Linked DNA regions of Homo sapiens. The protein of the gene in region 5 purifies or fractionates together with the protein of the main gene of each other region. This does not show direct contact. Each region holds a gene or a part of one and is shown on either strand. Other genes may lie near its edges.

Region 1 (3,521 bases), on a different chromosome or scaffold from region 5:
ATACAGCAGTGTGGTGAGACAATGAAGGAAACAGTTAATGTGAAAACTGTATGTGGCTATTACACATCAGCAGGGACCTATGGATTAGATTCTGTAAAGAAAAAGTGAGTTGCCTTTCTTGTTTTTCTTCCTATCCCACTTTTAGGAATTTGGTTGCTTTAGTTTCTTAAGAGAATGTATAGCTATAAGAAAGAAAGAATTAAGGAAAAATAGGATAGGGGGATGGAATTTTATTAAATAAAAAGCCCCTTTTAACTTTTGGACTAATTAGTAAATTCCTCAAAAGTGTCGTCTTTGTAAGTGACCATAGGTGGGTTATATACATGCTTATAAAAACCATGGTCACCTTGGTCGGGTGTGGTGGCTAACACCTGTAATCCCAGTGGTTTGGGAGGCCAAGGCAGAAAGATCACTTGGGCCCAGGAGATTAAGACCAGCCTGAGCAATGTAGGGAGACCCCATCTCTACAAAAAATTTTAAAAATTAGCCAGGCATGGTGGCATGCACCTGTGGTCCCCACTATTCTGGAGGCTGAGGTCAGAGGATTCTTTGAGCCCAGGAGGTTCAAGACTGCAATGAGCCGTGATCATGCCACTGCACTTTATAGTATATTTTCTATTAAAATTGTTTAAGAAGTAGGCCTGATAGACTGACAGTCCTTCTAACTCTTGAGAGTTGCAGTACCTGTTTTGAGATTTTAAAGAAGGTTATACTAGTATGCAGACCCCTTAATAAACTATTTAACACAAACTCAAAATGAAGTTTTAAAACTGGAAATGCTCTCGTTAATATAAAGGAAATATTCTCTTAATAATATCCACTGACAAAAATAATACTAAATTTCCTATTGTTAAGCTAAAAGTTTTGAGCATGTTCTGGCAAGATTAATCTGATTTTATTTTAACTATAAGTCCTACTTAATAAATTGTAAATACATGGCATATAATGTAATAATTATATATTTTAATTTCAGGTGCCTTGAATGGCTTCTAAACAATTTGATGACTCACCAGAATGTTGAACTTTTTAAAGAACTCAGGTATTTGAATTTCAAGTAACTTCATAATTAGTCATCCTAAAATATTGTTTATCATTTGTTAAAGTACATAACATTTTTGTAGAACACAAAAATATATTATGAAAAAGCAAACAATTTAATGAAAGGGCTTGACTACATCCATAAACTGAAGAAATGCTGTGCAAACTTATTTCTTTGTTGTGAATAATATAATGGATATTATGTCTACTGTTTTAACCGAAAAATGCATTACTGTTATAAGACTATAGAAAAGTTTCAGGTTTTGCCAGGCTGTTAGAGAATTTAAAAGTTATATTTTAAAAATCATCTTTTTTATTGAGAAATAAGTTTGAAGAAACTGTTTTGGCCTTTTTTTTTTTTTTTTTTTACCTTCAAAAACTTTTCATGTTGATCCGTTTTCTCACTAGGATGAATTCTCTGATGTGGAGTAACAAATGTGTGTCTCCTATAAATGTATATTTTTCCATCTCTGATTATTTCACACCTTGAATCCAAATCTGTAGTCCCAGCTACTCTGGAGGCTGAGGCAGGAGGATTGCTTAAGCCATAGAGGTCAAGGTTGCAGTGAGCTGTGATTGCGACACTGCTCTCCAGCCTCAGTGAGAGTGAGACAAGTTACCATGGTTCTTCACCGTCACCTCCTGGTACAAGGTCTTCTGAACCAGGTCAAGGTATTCCCACTCCTGATGAGAGAAGTCTGTGGCCATGTCCCTGAATGTTACAAATTCACAGGCCATGGTTTTAGACAAGCAAAAGCCAATCAGTCCTCAGGGTTTCTCTACCAGAAAAGCGATTTGGGAAAACCTAGACCTATAATCCCAGCACTTTGGGAGGCCAAGGTGGGAGGATTGCTTGAATCTAGGAGTTCGAGATCATCCTGGGCAACATAGTGACATCCCCTCTCTTTGAGAAAATATCAATCTTCCTTTAAAAAAAACCTGTTAGCGCCACACAGGGTCCCATGCAGGCTTCAGGCTGGGGCTGCAGAGGCTCCTGCAGTCAACTGCGCCGCCTTCGTCCTCAAGCGGGACCTGGTCAGACGCAGCACAGCGCAGAGCCAGAGGTCCTGGAGATGGAGCCAGAGGTCCAAGATTTCTCCATCACCTGTGGACTATGTAGTCCAAGCTGGAATAATAGGACCGCAGTCACCCGTGAGAAATGGATTCCAGGGTTCTAAAAACCTACAAGAAATATGGCGGTGACAATGAGGACTGCCCACCCTGCCCACCACCCAAGCTGCAGAGCAGCCTTTCTTTTTTAAAGAGATGGGGGCCTTGGTATGTTGCCCAGGCTAGACTCAAACTCCTGAGCTCAAGCAGTCCTCCTGCCTCAGCCTCCAAGTAGCAGGGATTATAGGCACATACCACTGCACCCAGCTTAGTTTGGCTTTTTGGATTAAGTACGCATATTATCCATTTATTCCTGCAGCAAGTACTTCCTGACTGTCCTTTATATGTAAAGATACTCTATTAGGGGCTGTGAAGAATGCAGAGATGATTTTGTCATGGTCTCTTGCTGTCAAAGAGCTTATTTGTAGTAATGGGACTAAGATATTTGTGATGGGTCTGAGAAAATCTGGCTAGCAGTTAACTTTTGAAGGCTGGTTGGCATTACAGTCATTTTCTGGCTTGCATTTCCCTGACAGCAGTGCTTCTGAGACAAGGATACAAATGTGTCCGAGAGTATGTGACATTCTGATGGAAATGTACAAAACCAAAGTCAAACATTACATAGCTTCCCAGAATGTGAATTTTACTGATTTTTTTTTTTTTTTTGGTGGGGAGGAGGTGGGGAAGAGGTAAATATTTTTATGTTTAAATACATTATGGAATAGAGGGAATTCAAATTTCCTTGAACTCTCAAGATACAATTTATAGAAATGTTACTTTTTATGGTTAGACCACCTCCTAGATTATGGGGTTTTTTTCCTTTCTTTTGCCTTTACGAGATAATTTGGTAGAGAAGTGTGAGAGACTTTCATCACCTGGTGATGTCAAGGCATAAATAAATCACCGTAGAATGTTTGATTTGAAAATCGTTAGAAACACTTTAATACAGTCAACCCTGCTTATCCATGGGTTCTCCATTTGTGGATTCTACCAACTGCCGATTGAAAAGATTTGGGGGAAAAACTATAAAAAATAATAACAAAAAAACCCAATGTAGTATGACAACTATTGCATAACATTTACATTGTATTAGGTACTGTAAGAACACCTAGAGATGATTTAAAGTATATGAGAGGATGTGCATAGGTTACATGCAAATACTATGCCATTTTATATAAGGGACTTGAGCATAGAGGATTTTGGTATTTGTAGGAGGTTCTGAAACCAATCCCCCACAGATACAGGGGGATGACTCTAATTTCTCACTGAACTTTTTGAAAAAGGAGCAGGATCCTCTTAAAAACCCACGTGCTCTCTTGGCTTTTTATGGCTCAAAGGAAAGAAAGAACAAAGGAAAAGCAAAACAAAACAAA
Region 2 (2,977 bases), about 16 Mb from region 5:
TAGTTTCTTTCAAAGCAGAAGGGTACTAGGGATGAGGGATAATGGTCTGGAAACAGTATGAGGACACGTGCACCACCTCCAGGCCCAGTGGGACACTGGGTGTGGAAGGGAAAATGCCACCACTACTGAGGTGGTAGGAGAAGCAGAGTCCTCATAAGAAACCAAGTCTGAAGAGCATAAATGTGAAGGGAACGTTCAGAGAAGAGGTTGAGGACACAGAGAATTTGACAAATGACTGGCCATCAGTTCCAGAGGGCACAGTGGAAGAGCTTCTAGAGTTGGAAAAGGTAGGTAGATGGAGACAAAACAGAGTGGAGATACATGGTTATTAAGTGTAAAAGATGAGATGACTCAGTAGTTTAGGACTAATTGTGATGATTGATATCAACATCAATAAGATTAAGGGTATGAGATTCGTTCTGTTGTTTGTGGTACGGAGGGATGTGCATCTGCGGGCATTCCTCAAGCCTGCCGATGGATGTGCATGTAGGAGAAAGTATACGGAGTAGAGGCAGTTTTAGAGTTACAAGTTAGACCAATCTCCAGGCTGTTTGTTTGTTTGTTTTTAAGAGACAAGGTTTTGTTCTGTCACTCAGGCTGGAATGCAGTGGCTCAATCACAGCTCACTGCAACCTCAAACTCCTGGGCTCAAGCTATCTTCCCGCCTCAGCCTCCCTTGGAGCTGGGACTACAGATGTGCGCCACCATGCCCAGATAATTTTTACATTTTTCAAATAGATGGTGTCTTGCTATTTGCCCAGGCTGGGCTCAAACTCCTGGGCTCAAGGGATCCTCCTGACTTGGCCTCCCACAGCACTGGGATAACAGGTGTGAGCCTCCAGGCTATTTTGAGAGAAGTCTTGCACACCTACTTCAAAGAATTTAAATGAGAGAATGAATGTAAAGCAGTTAGCACGGGACCCGATGCTATAATAATAGTTATGATACTACTATTGTTGCCAGGCACAATGGCATCCTTACTCAGGAGGCTGAGGTGGTAAGACTGCTTGAGCCCAGTTCGAGACCAGCCTGGGAAACACAGCAAGATTCCGTTTCTTAAAAAAAAAAAAAAAGATACCTCATTCTTGGTTCCACAGCAGCAAGCTCCAACAAGAATTTATCCAGCACCAAATCTACATTGGTCCTGAACAACACAATCCAATCACCAACATACAAAACCAAAAAACCAAAAATATTTTATTGCTGAGTCATCCTGGGGTTCCATAAAGGACCCCAAGCCTTGCTTGGAGTCTATAGCTTTGCTAGGACTCCCATGACATCAGGATAGAGATTGAGGCACGGGGTCCTTTGGGTTCCGATTAAGGAACTATCTACTCTGATTCTGTTGATCTTATTAGTCCCTCCAGGTCACCTCTACTTCATCTGTCCGATACCTGTGGAAAAACAGAAGAAACATGGTGGAGAGCGAGCCCTTAACATCCTTCATTCTTCTCTGCCCTCATGTTCCTGGACTCTTCCCTGCTGTTTTTGTCTATGTCCCAATAATCTACCCTCACCAAGAGGTGAATCACTCACCTCTGTGTAACCCCAGAATCACTGAGTGGGGTCCTGTGTCCAGCCCGAAACATCTCCCAGCCAGCCTGGGCTATCATCGCTCCATTGTCAATACAGAATCTGGGATGCAAGAGAGATGAAAATTGGGATCTAAGGGTGGAAAATCACTATAACAGGAGAAGTAAAAAAGAAACCAAAGGGAAAGTGTCTTTACCTCTCATCTGTAGCAAAAAGCCGGGCTCCACGTTCCTGGCACATTGTTGCCATCATCTCCTGTAGCCTCACATTACCTACAAAGAGGCAGGGAACAGGATTAGCTTAGTTTTAGCCATCTCTTCATGGTCCAGCAGAACACGTCATGTGCACTCACTTAGAACAATGACATAGGGGATTAGGGGCAAGGATTGGGAAGCCTACTCCAAACGCTTAATGATTTAGAGTACCAGGAGGAAGACGCATAGTGTTAAGAATAGGAAAGAGGAACACTTTTCAATAATACATACACCCCACTCCTCCCACAATGAGGGCCTCCTGGGAGCCACAATGTGCCATGGCTCGCTCTGTGATCTCTACCAGCATTGCAAACACAGTTTCCTGTCAGGGACAGATAAGGAGAAAATATTAGAGGGGCATCCCAGATTAGTTCTGCTCTACAATATAAAACCTTCAGCCCCAACTTTCTGTCCCAGTTTTTTACTGCATTACCTGCAGGGAGAAACACAGATCCTCAGGAGTACACTCGCCTGTGGCCAGCATCCGATGGGCTACATCCTACAATTAAAGGGAAAAACAAAAGAATCAACAAATCATGGTTTTGGGATTACACGAGAGCAAAAATTAATGCATTCGGAGGGTCATCATGTTTCACCACAATTCAAGTTACCAGCACATCCTGTACCACATTCCCTTCACTGGCATCATGGCATAGAATGAGCAGCTTTCATTTAAGATGCAATCATTACTTTTTGAATACTTGTCCTGACATCTCTCACCCCTTACTTATCCTGCTTAATTTTTCACCTGTACTCATCATCATCTGGCACTTCATTATTTTCCTCTTTCTTATCTCCCCCGCCCCCCATTTAGAATCTAAGCTCCATGTAGACAGGGATTTTTGTTTTGCTCCATGCTGCATCTCTACTATCTAGAACAGCATGTGGCACACAGAGATATTCAATGAATACCTTCTAAATGAATTTACCCAGCACATGATATGGACCAGTACTGTGCTACATGAATATACTGAGCTATACGAAATATAATCGTAAGTAAAACAGATATGCTTCATTTAAAAAGCATGAAAGTGCCCGTCTCATCACCTCTCACACTCACCTCAATGAAAGACAGGATCCCTGAGAATGAGACGTCCATCCCCTTTACAGTGTATGGCAGCTCAACTAGCTTCTTGCCTCTATGTGGGAATAAGCGTACGAGGCACTAAGCCTACAGTCAGCTGGCTTCT
Region 3 (3,093 bases), on a different chromosome or scaffold from region 5:
AGCCGGGCACGGTGCCTGTAATCCCAGCTACTCAGGAGGCTGAGGCAGGAGAATTGCTTGAACCAGGGAGGCGGAGGTTGCAGTGAGCCGAGATGGCGCCACTGTACTCAGGCCTGGGCGACAGAATGAGACTCTGTCTTAAAAAAAAAAAAAAAGAAGAAAATTAACAGTGGCTGAAGGCCAGAGTCTGGGCTCTTAATTTTTAGTCCCTGCAGTCAGGTGACCTGTTTGTTTTCTCTGCGACAAACACGTACTCCTATGAGTACCCTGACAGGAGAAGCTGCGGGTGGCTTTCCCCAGGATGAGCCAGGGATGAGATAAGGCCTGACTCCAACTGAGTCTCCAACTGGGAGGTCAGGGTGACATTGAGGGGCTTCACCTTGAAGGCACAGCGTAAGTGGTCATAATAGACTTCCTCAATGGCCTGGAAGTAGATGACACCTTTGAGCTTGGTCTCTTCCTTGTCTGGTAGGGGAGGTAAGAGAAAAAGAGAGCCAGTGAGAAAGGTGTGTCTGTGTGTGTCGAGGTGAGGGTCATTGGCCCTAAGTCCTGAGACTGGATTTGGGTAAGAAACATGGTGACAAGAGTCTGAAGGTCTCTAAAGGTTGGGAGGTGAGTGAATGTTAACGCTGGATGGGAGACTGGGCACAGAAACTGGACATGATTGGGGAGTGGGGTCTGTGGAGCTGGAATCCTAGGCCCTGAATGCTCGGCCTCTGAGAAGGGAAGGAACTCAGGGAGTGCTCAAGTGCTTTCTAGGTATAATCTCTAACCCTCTCAAACTCTCCTGGAGGGGTAAGTACATTTATCTCCATCTGACAGATGTGGAAACCAAGACTCAGAGAAGTTAAGGCACCCAGCACAAGTCACACAGCCAGAGCTGACAGAGCCAGGACTCACCAAGTAGAGTCAAATGGTCATACAGGTTAGGGAAGAAGGATTTGAGACAATACAAGCGTCCAAGGAGGCTGGGTGCAGTGGCTCAAGCCTGTAATCCCAGCACTTTAGGAGGCTGAGGCAGGCAGATCACAAGGTCAGGAGATCGAGACCATCCTGGCTAACACAGTGAAACCCTGTCTCTACTAAAAATACAAAAAATTAGCCAGGTGTGGTGGCATGAGCCTGTAGTCCCGCCTATTCAGGAGGCTGAGGCAGGAGAATCGCTTGAGCCGGGGAGGTGGAGGTTGCAGTGGGCTGAGATCGCACCACTGCACTCCAGCCTGGGCGACAGAGCAAGACTCTGTCTCCAAAAAACAAAAACAAAAACAAAAACAAAAAAAAGTGTCCAAGGAGAGGTTTGGAATAATTGATTCTCCTAGAGAAGAAGGACAAGGGCCCCAGACTCCTGGCCATTGGGGGGCTGGGGGCAGCTGACAGTGCAGGTTCAGACTCATGGGTGTCTTAGGAACATGGGCCCTGGGAAGCTTGAATTGTACTAAACTGTTATCTATGTCCCTGAGGAGGACTGGGGGTTTGAATTCTGGGTGGCTTAAAGAGGGGCTGGGGATCTGGATTCCAGGGTCTGGAGGAGAGAGAGAGCTGGGAGCCTGGACTCCTGGGTTGTAGGGAAGTTAGGAGCTAGGGAACCAAACTTCTGGATCCTGGGGAACATGGAAAGTGGGGGCCAGGACTTCTGGTGCCTGTAGAGGAAAGGCCTCCGGAGTGGAATTCCAGCGTCCTGGGGCCCATGGTGGCCAGGCTGGGCTTACCCGCATAGTAGGCCAAGCGGCGGGCTTGGCGGTCAAAGCAGAACCATCGCTTCCTCCAGGTCTTGATGCGGCCGCCCATCTTCACCAGGGGTCCACGGCAGCAGCACCCAGACACCTGCACATGTGGGCAGTTTTCCGGGTTGTGGCCCCATCCCTCCAGATGCTGCCGGAGATCCAAGATTCGCGGGCCTGGAGGGTGGGGTGGGGTGGGTGGGGCCTGGGGAGCAAAGAGACGGGGCAGCTGATGTAAGGGGCGGGGGATTCTACAGCCTGGAGCCCCTCGAGGGGAGCAAGTCATAGCAGCTTGCATGTAAGGCCCGCTACAGCCTTTAGAGGGTAATATTAACTAGGACCATCTGACAAATGCAACGGCTACGTGGATTGACTGTGATGCTCTGCCCAGGACTTTATGGACATCAGCTCCTTGGCACTTCATGGCAACTGTGAGCCCCATTTTACAAATGAGCAAAATGAGGTACAGAGAGATGACATAATGCACCCGAGGTCACACAGAGCTTCTAGGCAGCAGAACTGGGACACGAACCCAGGTATTTCTGACCCTAGAGCTCACCCTGAAACATCAGAGGCCTATCAAAAGAAATAAAGATCGGGCCGGGTGTGGTGGCTTATGCCTGTAATCTCAGAACTTTGGGAGGCTGAGGTAGGAGGATCCCTTAGGCCTAAGAATTCAAGGGCAGCCTGGGCAACATAGTGAGATCCTGTCTCTGAAAAAAAAAAATTTTTTTTGGAAAAAAGAAATGAAGATTGGAGCCTGTGTGGTGGCTTAAGCCTGTAATTCCAGCTACTCAGGAGGCTGCGGTGGGAGGATCCCTTGATCCCAGAAGTTGGAAACCAGCCTGGGCAACACAGAAGACCCCTTCTCTATTTAAAAAAAAAAAAAAAAAAAAAAAAAAAAGGAGAGAGAGAAGAGAAGCTATGTGCAGTGGCTCATGCCTGTAATCTCAGCACTTTGGGAAGCTGAAGTGGGAGGATCACTTGAGGCTATGAGTTGGAGACCAGCCTGGGCAATATAGTGAGACCCCATCTCTACTAAAAATCCAAAAAATTAGCTGGGCCTAGTGCTGCACACCTGTAGTTCCAGCTACTAAGGAGGCTGAGCCCAGGAGGATCACTTGAGCCCAGGAGATCGAAATTGCATTGAGCTATGATTGCACCACTGCACTCCAGCCTGGGTGATTGAGTGAGACCCTGTCTCAAAAATAAAAAAGAAAGAGAGAGCTTGTTTACATTATTATTGTTGTGATGAAATTAATGAATATAATCCTCTGCTAAGTACTTTCTAGGTATAATCTCTGCCCCCTCAAACTCTCCTGAAGGGGTAAGTACATTTATCTCCGTTTCACAGATGTGGAAACCAAGACTC
Region 4 (3,205 bases), on a different chromosome or scaffold from region 5:
CCATAATCACAGAATTGGCCCCAGTCTTTCTCTGTCATGAAACTTGGCCCTCCCCAGACAATGAAAACATAAATATCACATCTGTGACAACTCTAGCATTTCTAGCAGGAAAAACAAATCCTGAAAAAGCATCAAATGCAGTGAATCTGACCACACAATGGTAAAATAGTTATTTCAATAAAGATTTTCATTTCAAAAAATGAATTTTTTTGTTGTTTCCACAATAATCAATTTAGTTATTGACAATGCAGGTCAGGCCTCATTCATGGCCATAACATAATCTCTGATCTTTCCAGTCCCTACAACACTACAAATTTTCACAGGATTATACATAGAATTCTAAAGCAAAATAATCCTAGAAAATATAAGTGGAAATAAAAATATATAATCAAATCAGATACACTTTTTTCATACACAATAAATCATTAGCATTTTTTCTTATAAAGGACAGGCTCACTGTAGAGTAGTATGCAGAAAAATATAATAAATAAAATAGATATCACAAATAATGTCATCTAATTTTTTTTCAGATCTTCTATGGTGTTTATATATACAATACTGTTGGTTTTATATTGTATACAGATCTGTTTCCTGTTATTACCACTTGATGTTATTATTGTGATACTTTCTTGGTATCATTAAACATTAGTAAACATTTTCTATCATGTTAGATACCATATTTTATTTAGACATTCCCCTGTTTTCAGGAATTTAGGCAATCATTTCTATTTTAAATCATGCTTTAATAAGCCTTTTAAGCATTTTTTTATTTTGGTCTAAACTTGGGGTCATTTGTGAGGATAAATTCACAGAAGAAGAAATTTTTAAGGCCTTTGATAGATGTTCCAAGACTGCTTTCCAGAATGTTTGTGGTGATTTATAGATGTCCTAAGAATATTTGAGGATATCTATGTCATGTACCTGCACTAACATAATTACTGTGTTTTAAAAATACTTTGGTTTTATTGTATCTTAAATAATTAATCAATAATTCTAAGGAAGCCTTATATCATAGGTGAGAAGGTTTGTTTGAAATTGGCAAGGAGCAAGGTACATGAGGGAGTTTGCATTGTCCACAGCCTTAAAGGTTCACTTCACACAGTAAATACTACAAAATTATCTGTCTTGGATTGTTTAGACATTCAATTGCTTGAATGTCCAGGGACAAACCACTTGATCTCTTCTAAGTATTTCATGTTAGGGTTTTTAGAAATAGCTTTTAACACAATTTTGATTGAAATAATTTTTCAGAAAGCCCATTTCACTTGTTAAGGCATTTCATCTTTAGCTGAATTTTAAGTATGCTATGAGATAAACCAGGAACAAGGAGACTTGATTCTCTATACCATATTTTATCGATTCTAAGACACACATTTTTCACATCTAAGCGTCTTTAGTATTTGGATGTATAATAGGCACTGCTAGCACTTTCAGATCCCTCTACCACTCTCATGCATGACAGCTCCCTGTGCTTTCACTCTCAACATTCAGCACCTGCACCTCTTTGTTGGACGGCTGTCCTCAGGCTACAGGAACATGCTTTGACTGCATTGCAGGCTGGAAGCACCTGGAAATTTACACCCACCCCCACCCCCACCCCCATTCAATAACTGATGGTGCAGAGGTATAAATACTCTGGGTTCTCTGGCCTCTGACTTGAACCTACTGTAGAACCTTTTTGTCTCTAGGGCTCTCCCGTGGGAGTGAACCAAAGTCATCTCCAGAATAGGCTTTGCTTGACATCACACTTTTTGTGGGTTTTTTTCCCCCTTTCCTTTGGATCGGTTCTATTTCTCTATTTCCCTATTACTTTTCACCCTTGGGCCACTTCCTAATTCACATAAATCCTTATGTCAGAGGAATTAAACATATTACAGGAAGTGTCTTACAATAATTGATGTCCTGCAGTTACTGTCAGCCAGGTGGTCATAGTGATATGGTTGTCTTTGCCTGTGCATGCATGAATTTGGTTGTTCTTTCCATGATATGACTGGACTGTTACTTCTTTACTTTTTGGTCAATAAACCATTTAAGGACTATTGAGAAGAGTATGAATCCTGATTGTTATCTAAAATTTTTCTATTAAGTCCTTTTGCCAAGATAAAAAATGTGCCAGCATCAGAGTTGTAGAATGGATGTCTAAGACAGGGAAAAAAATCTCAGAGACTGCAGTAGAATATTCCTTTAAGAAATGTTATTTATCCTGATGGCAGAGAGGGTGTTACCGTGAAAAATTGTGGTTTATGACAACTCTGATTCAAAAAAGAGATGCAGAAAGAGTTCAATTCTGAATGTACAGAGCTTTGTAAATATCATAATTAATATTTCATTCTCTTTTACACACATGATTTTTAAAAATCTATGCTGAAACAGTTCTCTTGTATTTACTTAAAGGCGTATAAGATAAAAATTCTAACTACTAAGTCATATTTTAAATCTTTTTTTCATTTTCAGTTACACACAAAATAATGATGGGTCTTATAACTGATGAAATACTAATTGGGAATATGGTACTTATAGAGACAGAAGAAATACAATCAATGAACAGTCTTAATTGGAAAAACTAAGGTAACTTCATAGACTTCTCACTTTCCATTTGTAGAGAGAGTTCTACTGGTAAATGAGGAACCACCAGTATTTGGTCATATTTTTGAAATTGTGTAGATTTTATTAAATATTTCTTATTCCTCCAATACGTGTGTGTGTGTGTGTGTGTGGTGTGTATATACACACAGATATATATATATACACACACACACACACACATATACTAAGTGTATGTGTGTGTATGTATGCATTCTATTTCCTTCAAATTTCCCTTATATCGAGTACTTTTATCAGAGAAGTAATCCATGCATTTAATTTGGTGCCAACTTCTTATTTTTGTGTGGTAATCACCAAAGAAAAATAAAAGCTGGCATTAGATTAAATGCATAGATTACTTCTCTGAATGATAAAACTGCCTAAAGAAATAGAATCTGCTCATAAACATCTTTTCATATTCCATTCCACAGAAATTTCTGACCTTACCTGTCTATATTACCTATTCCTATAAGGTAACTTTATTATCTACTCAATTTGTTTTGTCTTCCTGTTGTCTCTTCTCGTGTGTGCTGATGAAAGATGAATTTCTCCACTGTGAAACAGAACAGTCAAGCAATTCCAGTGGGGTTACTTATAGATGAGATAATTTCTGCAATTTCAG
Region 5 (2,808 bases):
CTGTCACCCAGGCTGGAATACAGTGCATCACTGCAGCCTTGACCTTCTGGGGTCAAGTGATCCTCCTACCTCAGCCTCCCAAAGTGCTGAGATTACAGGAGTGAACCACCAAACAATTATTGACCTGAACAACTGCTCCATGAAAGAATTTCCACATAACTGTAGCTGCATCTTTCAAATGTTTAATTTATAACTGTGGTAATGTATGTACTGCCTAATGTAACTGGGGTATTGTAAAGGGGAGGCTCTCAAAAGAGAGGTACTATAATTTCTTTGTAATATCCTAATTGCTGTCCAAAAACAGACCTGGTTTTATAATATTAGCTAACATCTACTGAGCAATTCCCTTGGGACAGACAGTTTCAAACATGCAAGATCTCACCTCTTCTTCGTAACAATCAATAAGGTAGTCTCTACTATTGTCATTCCCATTTCACAGACTGGGAAATAAGAACAAAGACAGATTAAGTAAATTGATCAAAGTCACACCGTCAAAGGGATAAAGCTGGATCTATTGTTTATTTACATGAATACTGACATCTTAAAGATTAAGAAAAACAAGTTCATACACATGCATTTAAAATTCATTTCAGTCAATAAATTTTTGTTGAATGCTTATTATATGCAAAGTACTGATTTAAACTAATAAACTGGTTAACATCAATGTTACAAATATAAAGTCCTTTTAAAGTATCAATATCAAAATAAATCTTCCTTCCTGTGGTCCACAAAAGAAAAAAGATGTACCAGCACTTGTAAATTAAGTTTTTCAATTTCCAAAATACCTCCTTTAAAACAGAAGGGAATAAATTCCAACAATGCTATTTTCAATGCATTCATTATTTCAAAACTTACTGGAATATTTGAAGATTACTTGCTGCAAGCTGGACTCATGTGAAAATAAACCTTGACTTCACAGAGAAGTCTACATTGATAAATATATATCCGTTGAATTAATAACAGTGTAAGTTACACATATGTATACAAAAAAGTAAAATGACAAGGATGAGAGGAGTTTTTCATGGAAGGTGGTGGGTTGCCATGGATTCTGCTTCTCTTGATTTTCTGAGGAGGGCTTGTTTGAGGGCACTAATTTTCTCATCAAGTTCAGCCAGTGAATAGTTCTGCTGTAAACAATAACGACACAAATTGCTGAATAAGATTCTGAAGTATCTTAATGCAGATAAAGTGCCAAATGAACTATAAATATTTAAAATATTCAAAAGCATGATCAAATGGTTTTTTTCCCTCATGAGAATAATCTTAAAACTGAGCAACTATATATGTTGACTATATCATAAATTTAAAGGCATAAAATAACAAGGCTTAAATATTTCTTTTTCTCTTTTCTAATGACTAAGCTCTCCTGAACCTTTTATACTTAGAAAGAATAAGTTAAAAAAAAAAAAAAAGCCTGATTATTAGACACTGGAGCCTATTTGAAGATGGGAGGAGGGAGAGGACTGAAAAACTGCCTATTGGGTATTATGCTGATTGCCTGGGTGACAAAATTATCTGTACACCAAACCCCCATGACATGCAATTTACCCATGTAACAAAGCTGAAAAACCCTTGAGCTTAAGTAAAAGTTGGAAAGAAGAAGAAAAATGCTAATTATACTACTACCAGGAGAAAAAAATCATTTGAGACATCAACTATCCCTTTTAATGGAAAACTTTCTATGTTGATTACTAAAGTTAACCTGAAGTGGAAAATAGTGAAGAAAATACTTCTTTTACCTTCCAATAAAAATTGGATTTATTCAAGTCTACCTATGTGAACACCCTCACTTATATATTAATATTTCTAATTTAGACACAAGTATTATGTAGTGGCTATTAGGGGGTAAAGAGAAGGGGAAATTGGGACTGAGTGCTAATAGATACAGGGTTTTGGGGGGGCAGTGATGGAAATGTTCTAGACTTAGTGGTGATGGTTGCACAACATAGTGAATATACTAATAGCCACTTTAAAATGATGAATTTTATGTTATGTGAATTGTATTTTTAAAGCAGCAACGAAGTGTTACAGTTTACTACATAAGAGAATAACTTTTAAAAACCTGATTATTCTCATAATCAATAGTAAAAAAAGTTAGTTAACTTTAAAAATAGCTGCTTAAAATACTTAGAAATTCTCTCTTGAGGGATCAACTATAATAATTTACTTCGGGAAAAAATAGCTGCTATCAAAAAACTTACTCAGAATTTTACAAGAAAAAAATATGCTACTCTTAAAAATCAGAAAGTTTTCTCCAACTTTAAATTCACATTACCACTGTTAAATTCTAGCAAAGCCTTACTATTTAAGGTTCAACTAATTAGTAAAGTAGCACTTTAGACAGGGCTGGCTGAAGTCAAACTCTGCCAAACACCCTTTTTGATCTAGGTGCTGCTAATTAGAAGTGTTCACAAAAGGAAGGGATGGGGGGAGACTGAAATTACTTGAGCACTTACTATTTTTAAGCACTTTGTGAATGACACATCCTTGTACTACTAAAAGCAGGACAAAGGTTTTATTTATTTAACCTATCTGAGTCATTCCATGCCCTTAAAATAATTTTTCTATTCAACTGTATTAGTTTATACTGCCCTTTTCTTCAGTCCTAAATTTTACCAGGGTATGACCTAAAAGCAACCATAGTAGAAACTTTTATTAATAAGAAAGGTATAAAACTAATCAAACTATTTCAGAAACCAAAATGAAAATGCAGTAACTTACTTGAGGTGGTTGAACTTTTCTTCTTTTTCCAGAAAAGCTCTAGATTAAAAAAAAAAAGGTAATGTTTAGAAAAATCTAAGCATCATT
Region 6 (3,500 bases), on a different chromosome or scaffold from region 5:
GAACATTCTTTTGGAAGGCTCTCATTCAATATTTAACCACAATCTGACATCGCCCCATCCATATATATTTCCTTTAATCTTTTTGAGAAGAGATGGCCTGATCAGGTTTATATCCTCAGAATGCATCTCTATTTTGACATCCATGCTCAGGTCTCTCTGCAAGAGTACTGATCTGGTTTTAATTAGCATGTATCCATCTATCTATTCACAAATGTTTCCTGTACACCTGCTATATGCCAGGTGCTAAGCATCAAAGAATATATATACGTATCAAGCTCTTGTCAGAAAGGTTTAATCTTGAACTGTCAAACTAAGAGATGATATTTATGGACGAGTACAGTTCAGTATTCTTAGAGTTATCTAAATTTTTATCTCTTAAAAAAAAACTTTTATTCGGCCAGTCACAGTGGCTCACACCTGTAATCCCAGCACTTTGGGAGGCTGAGACAGGCGGATCACTTAAGGTTGGGAGTTTGAGACCAGCCTGGGCAACATGGCGAAATCCCCACCTCTACTAAAAATACGAAAATTTGCTGGGCATGGTGGCAGGCACCTGTAATCCCAGCTACTCAGGAGGCTGAGACAGGGAGAATTGCTTGAACCCAGGAGATGGAGGTTGCAGTGAGCCGAGATTGTGCCACTGCACTCCAGTCTGGGAGACAGAGCAAGACTCCATCTCAAAAAAATAAAATAAAATAAAATTCCAGTAGAGTCCTCAGAGAAATAAATTTTATCTTTTAACTAAACCACAACAGTGAGTTAAGATTAAATCATTGTGCCGCTATGTGAAACTGATTTTACCAAACTGTTTTGGCATCAGGCCAATGATCTGTATTGAGAAACATAAAAAACAGTACCAGGAGATAATAGTTCATACTTAGAGTACTCAGAGTCATTTAGCCAGACACCATGCTAAACACTTTGCATGCATTAATTCATTCAACCCTCACAATCAAATCCCATGTAGAAAGTACCGTTATTACTCTCATTTGACAGAGGAGGACACAGCTGACAGGAGGGTTAAGTAACTTAATTAAGGCCACACAGTGGTAGAAGCAGGATGTTAACCCAGGGAAACTGACTCCTGAGCTCTTATTCTTAGTAACTATGTTACACTGCCATTATTCATCAAGTAAGGATGTTGAGGTCTTTGTTCATTATATCCTTTCACGTTTTCTCTTTTTTAAAAAAACAGGGTCTCACTTTGTTCCCCCTAGCTGGTATGCAGTCAGTGGCGTGATCACAGCTCGCTGCAGCCACAACCTTGCCAGGCTCAGGTGATCCTCCCCTCCCACCTCAGCTCCTGAGTAGCTGGGACCACAGGCATGCACTACCATGCCCAGCTAATTTTTGTATTTTTTGTAGAGACAGGGTTTCACCATGTTGCCCAGGCTGTTTGTGAACTCCTGGGCATAAGCTATCCATCCACCTCAGCCTTCCAAAGTGCTGGGATTACAGGCGTAATCCACTGGGCCTGGCCTAATGTTTTCTTAATACTTCTCAGGAGAAATTTTAATACTAGGAATAGGAATGGCTCCTCAGCAATTGATTTGTTCTCATCTTCTAACAAGGAATAATGTAACTGAATAGTCTTTTTCTTTGAACTAGGTGCACTTAGAGCTAGATTTAGCACATCTACTATAGACTTATGGTATGCATTTTTGGCTATCATACTTCTAACTTGAAATGATTATCTCCTTATTAAACCAATTTATTTATTTCCATCTATTTCCTTATTTTTAAACAGTATTATGTTAATCTTTGTAAGCCAAACCCTTTGTAGGATAAGGCTTGGTATAAACAATAACTTGAATCCAACAAAACAGTTTATAAGGATCCAGATCCTTAAAAAGCTGTCTAGATTTATTTTATTACATACCAAAGATGCTACTTTAATATTAGCAGTTTTAACACATGATCAGAAAATCAAAGTCAAGTGAAAGAACAATCAGTATCCAGAAAATTTTTTAATAGATCCTTAAATATTCTTAATTCTTCTGAAGAACTCTGTTCTTCATGGCATGACACATACTGTAAGTTCTTCACTAACAGAATGAACATGACTGAATATGACTATCTGAACCCCATTAAAGAAATTAAGTACCTGACTTCAAGGGCTTTGATAGCTTCTAGCATTTGTAGAAACTCTGCTGCTTTCCATACATCATTGGCTTCTTCTTCTCCTTGTATCATTAATTTTGCTGTATATGTGAACTCAATTAAATGGCGAAAGGCCATTTTACTAACACCTGTAAAGAAGATGTACATTAGAGCATGTAATCATATTGACTCAAATCTTACAATGTTTAGTAAAGAAAGAAAAGCCCAGGGCTTGGAGCTTGTTGAGTATTTATTTTTGAAAACTATTTTCTGGAAAAATTCTCATTAGCAATACAATAATATTACAGCCAAATTTCAGCACTACCTAGCTGGAAAATCTTAAACTACTTTAAATTTCCTGAGGCTCTTGGAGAACAGTAAGATTCTATCACTCAAATATATGAATTGGCTATTACATGTCAGACATGCTACATTTCTTGCCAGGGAGATTACAGCTGTGCCAACTCAGCTCCAAAATCTTCAATAGCTTTTCACAACTTAGCAAACAAAATTTAGTACCTCTCTGACTTTATTTCAAGGCCCTTCACATTATTTTCCTATTTACCTTTCCAAATTTTAAACGACATCACACACACACTATATACTATTTCTCAAACAAACCCTGCACTTTCTAATAGCTGACTTGCCTTTATTTATTTATTTTGAGATGGAGTTTCACTCTTGTTGCCCAGGCTGGAGTGCAATACAGTGATCTTGGCTCACAACCTCTGCCTCCCAGATTCAAGAGATTCTCCTGTCTCAACCTCCCGAGCTGCTGGGATTACAGGCATGTACCACCACGCCTGGCTAATTTTGAATTTTTAGTAGAGATGGGGTTTCCCCATGTTGGTCAGGCTGGTCTCAAACTCCCGACCTCAAGTGATCTGCCCGATCAGCCTCCCAAAGTGCTGGGATTACAGGCGTGAGCCACCGCACCCAGCCTGACTTGCCTTTATTAACACCCTCCTAGTTGGATGCTTAATCATTTCATCTCTGGTTATACTCATCCTACCACCCACCCCTTAAAGGTCCAACTCTAATGTCACATGTTCAATGAAACCTTTTAACATTTATTGTAATAAGAACATGAGATCTACCCACTTAACACATTTTTAAGTGTACACTATTGTTGACTCTAGGTACAATGTTGTACAGACCTCCAGTTTATTCATCTTGCGCAATTGAAACTTTATGCCCACTGATTAGTAACTGCCCATTTCCTCCTCCCTCCCAGCCCCTAGCAACCCGTATTCCACTCTTTCAATCTATTTGAGATAGCTCATATGAGTGGAAGTGACTATTTTAGATTCCTCATATAAATAGAAATATGCAGTTTATGTCTGTGACTGGCTTACTTCACTTAGCATAATGTCCTCAAGGTTCATCCATGTGGTTGCATA
Region 7 (2,508 bases), on a different chromosome or scaffold from region 5:
AAACATTAGGCGTGGATATTTTGTGTGCTAGCCTGCATATCATTCTCTCTTCCCGTAAACTCCTTGAGGGTGGGATCCATGTCTTTTTCATATACCAGGAACTTGCTTGTACCTATAACAGTCCTTAACACAGCCTCACTCACACACCCAGTACATAGGTAGAGTTTGTGGTTTGAAATACTTATAGTAATGCTTTTTCAATGAAAGTTATCAAGCTAAAGACATCACACATGTAGCACATGAAAAAAATGACTGCAATTTTGCTGATGAAGTTTTAGTATTACTGCTGCTGTTAATAACAACCAGGTACTAATGTCATCTACAGGAAACCTGTAGCATAGGTTAAAATACAGATGATTGACAAGTTTATAAAATGCAGTTATCTCAGCATGGTAATAGAGATTCCCAGTACCTGGAATAAAATTTACTAATTATGGTTTCCTTGAGATCATTAGACATAATTCAGAAAACTCTTGAATTCAGTAAACATCTGTTGAACTTTTTCCCCGTTCCATTTACAGTTCTAGGGGCAGAAGAGGCAAATATGTTCCTGAGGAGAGGCAGATAAACAAGACAAGTTAAAATGCCCTAAGATAAATGATATAATGGGAAAATGAATTCAAATCTAGGGGTACAGCAATGAAGCCATTCATTTTGGAGGGAGGAGGGTGTGGTGGGGAGTGGCATCAGAACTGTGGACCCTGAAGCATGTGTTCAGCAGCCAAGCCATGAGGAGAAGGGACATGCGAGCAGAGGACAAAGCTTGAGCACAGGCAGAAGGGCATGAAATGTGACTGGATCCCCAGGCAGGCTGGACTGGCCAGAAGGCAGAAGCGCCTGGCTGGAGGGCCACTTGGCACCAGAGGGAGGAGGTGTTTTTGTGCAGCGCCAAGAGGCTGGGCTTGATTCCATAGGAACAAGGCGTACCTTTAAGCAGGGAGTGCTTTTGAGGAAGTGCCAATGGATGTTGGAAAGGAATCATTAAAGTGAAAAAGTAGGCAGTGAGAACTGTTAGGACATGAAAAATAAGAGCCTGACCAAGGAAGAAGGCAGATCAGGAAATGTTTCAGACGTAGGAAACAATGGTTAATGATCTTGTGTTTTTTTTTTCATTTTTTTTCTCTTAGATTTCAGAGGCTTTGAAAAAATTTGGTATCTCAGCAAATGACACTTCAATTCTAATTGTTTACATTGAAGAGGGAGAAAAACAAATAAATCAAGAATACCTAATATCTCAAGTAGAAGGTCATCAGGTTTCTCTGAAAAATCTTCCTGAAATAATGAATATTACAGAAGTCAAAAAGGTTTGCCAGTCCATATTTTTAGAAAGAGTGTGATAGATGAGCAATAATGCTGATGCCGTTTGCCTATTGATCACCAGAGCTCCTTGTTTTTTGAACTTTTGAGAAAGTTAATCTAATTTTAAAAATTACTTAAAAATTACAGATACAAAGAACTGGGAGGTGTGATGGTTTATGTAAAATATAATTACAAACTCAGCTGACATAACCATTCTCCACATTAAGAAAGAGAATACCTTTAAATATCAAACTTACATAGTATATTTAAAATGTAAAATAAATTTAGTATGCTTTTAAAATGGATAGAAATTTGGTTTTTATGTTCTTGAGAGTTACTCCCATAGCAGCAATTTAAAGGGGATACAAGTAATGAATTGCCCTCTACTTTGAATATTTTAATCACATTTGTTGTTTGTTATACCATGAACCCAATAATTGAATGAGGAATAATTTCACTTACACATGTTTGTATAATGACAATTAGTAGTGAATGACGATATCAGCAAGTCATAATTTGTCTTTCATTTTTACAGATATATAAACTCTCTTCACAAGAAGAAAGTATTGGGACATTATTGGATGCTATCATTTGTAGAATGTCAACAAAAGATGTTTTATGAAATGTCAGAAATATTAACAAAAATTCTCAGCATTAAAGAAAACATTGATTTTCCTTTCCTGACTATAAAACTAATTGTGCATTATAGAAAAGTTTAAATCACAGAATGGTATTAAAAAAAAAAAAAAAAGGCCAGGCACGGTGGCTCACGCCTGAAATCCCAGCAATTTGGGAGGCCAAGGCAGGTGGATCACCTGAGGTCAGGAGTTCAAGACCAGCCTGGCTAACATGGTGAAACCCCATCTCTACTAAAATACAAAAATTAGCTGGGCATGATGGCAGGTGCCTGTAATCCCAGCTATTCGGGAGGCTGAGACAGGAGAATCGCATGAACCTGGGAGGCACAGGTTGCAGTGAGCTGAGATCGTGCCATAGCACTCCAGCCTGGGCAGCTGAGCGAGACTCCGTCTCAAAAAAAAAAACCAAAAAAAAAAAAAACAAAAAAACCACTTGTAGTCCTACCTCGTTGTATTTTAAAAGATAATCAGTTACTATTACTTGTTATTGCCTTCTAGAGTTCTGTTTCTATTCAAATATATTTTATTTTTATATAATTAGAATAAAAATTGCAAACACTTATGGAATGCC

The links.
Region 1: the proteins of MBIP (region 5) and GMCL1 purify together in Homo sapiens (affinity purification with mass spectrometry; 3 studies listed by BioGRID and IntAct, with this or other methods). This does not show direct contact.
Region 2: the proteins of MBIP (region 5) and OSGEP purify together in Homo sapiens (co-immunoprecipitation; 3 studies listed by BioGRID and IntAct, with this or other methods). This does not show direct contact.
Region 3: the proteins of MBIP (region 5) and PHLDB3 purify together in Homo sapiens (affinity purification with mass spectrometry; 3 studies listed by BioGRID and IntAct, with this or other methods). This does not show direct contact.
Region 4: the proteins of MBIP (region 5) and STXBP4 purify together in Homo sapiens (affinity purification with mass spectrometry; 3 studies listed by BioGRID and IntAct, with this or other methods). This does not show direct contact.
Region 6: the proteins of MBIP (region 5) and ZNF131 purify together in Homo sapiens (affinity purification with mass spectrometry; 3 studies listed by BioGRID and IntAct, with this or other methods). This does not show direct contact.
Region 7: the proteins of MBIP (region 5) and TPRKB purify together in Homo sapiens (affinity purification with mass spectrometry; 4 studies listed by BioGRID and IntAct, with this or other methods). This does not show direct contact.

What each region holds. Positions count from the first base shown.
Region 1 is NC_000002.12:69,843,158-69,846,678, forward strand, and holds part of GMCL1 (germ cell-less protein-like 1), read left to right. Parts: coding exon 1-104; intron 105-973; coding exon 974-1,039; intron 1,040-1,427; exon of another isoform or gene 1,428-1,710; intron 1,711-3,521. UniProt on the Homo sapiens protein: Possible function in spermatogenesis. Enhances the degradation of MDM2 and increases the amount of p53 probably by modulating the nucleocytoplasmic transport.
Region 2 is NC_000014.9:20,445,886-20,448,862, forward strand, and holds the end of OSGEP (tRNA N6-adenosine threonylcarbamoyltransferase), read right to left. Parts: intron 2,927-2,977; coding exon 2,848-2,926; intron 2,287-2,847; coding exon 2,221-2,286; intron 2,110-2,220; coding exon 2,019-2,109; intron 1,806-2,018; coding exon 1,730-1,805; intron 1,636-1,729; coding exon 1,537-1,635; intron 1,395-1,536; coding exon 1,355-1,394; 3' UTR 516-1,354; downstream 1-515. UniProt on the Homo sapiens protein: Component of the EKC/KEOPS complex that is required for the formation of a threonylcarbamoyl group on adenosine at position 37 (t(6)A37) in tRNAs that read codons beginning with adenine.
Region 3 is NC_000019.10:43,477,668-43,480,760, forward strand, and holds part of PHLDB3 (pleckstrin homology-like domain family B member 3), read right to left. Parts: intron 1,927-3,093; coding exon 1,710-1,926; intron 466-1,709; coding exon 380-465; intron 1-379.
Region 4 is NC_000017.11:55,167,759-55,170,963, reverse strand, and holds part of STXBP4 (syntaxin-binding protein 4), read right to left. Parts: 3' UTR 1-3,205. UniProt on the Homo sapiens protein: Plays a role in the translocation of transport vesicles from the cytoplasm to the plasma membrane. Inhibits the translocation of SLC2A4 from intracellular vesicles to the plasma membrane by STX4A binding and preventing the interaction between STX4A and VAMP2.
Region 5 is NC_000014.9:36,298,064-36,300,871, forward strand, and holds the end of MBIP (MAP3K12-binding inhibitory protein 1), read right to left. Parts: intron 2,761-2,808; coding exon 2,722-2,760; intron 1,128-2,721; coding exon 1,020-1,127; 3' UTR 501-1,019; downstream 1-500. UniProt on the Homo sapiens protein: Inhibits the MAP3K12 activity to induce the activation of the JNK/SAPK pathway. Component of the ATAC complex, a complex with histone acetyltransferase activity on histones H3 and H4.
Region 6 is NC_000005.10:43,137,914-43,141,413, reverse strand, and holds part of ZNF131 (zinc finger protein 131), read right to left. Parts: intron 2,250-3,500; coding exon 2,105-2,249; intron 1-2,104. UniProt on the Homo sapiens protein: Plays a role during development and organogenesis as well as in the function of the adult central nervous system. May be involved in transcriptional regulation as a repressor of ESR1/ER-alpha signaling.
Region 7 is NC_000002.12:73,729,356-73,731,863, reverse strand, and holds the end of TPRKB (EKC/KEOPS complex subunit TPRKB), read left to right. Parts: intron 1-1,127; coding exon 1,128-1,304; intron 1,305-1,834; coding exon 1,835-1,921; 3' UTR 1,922-1,991; downstream 1,992-2,508. UniProt on the Homo sapiens protein: Component of the EKC/KEOPS complex that is required for the formation of a threonylcarbamoyl group on adenosine at position 37 (t(6)A37) in tRNAs that read codons beginning with adenine.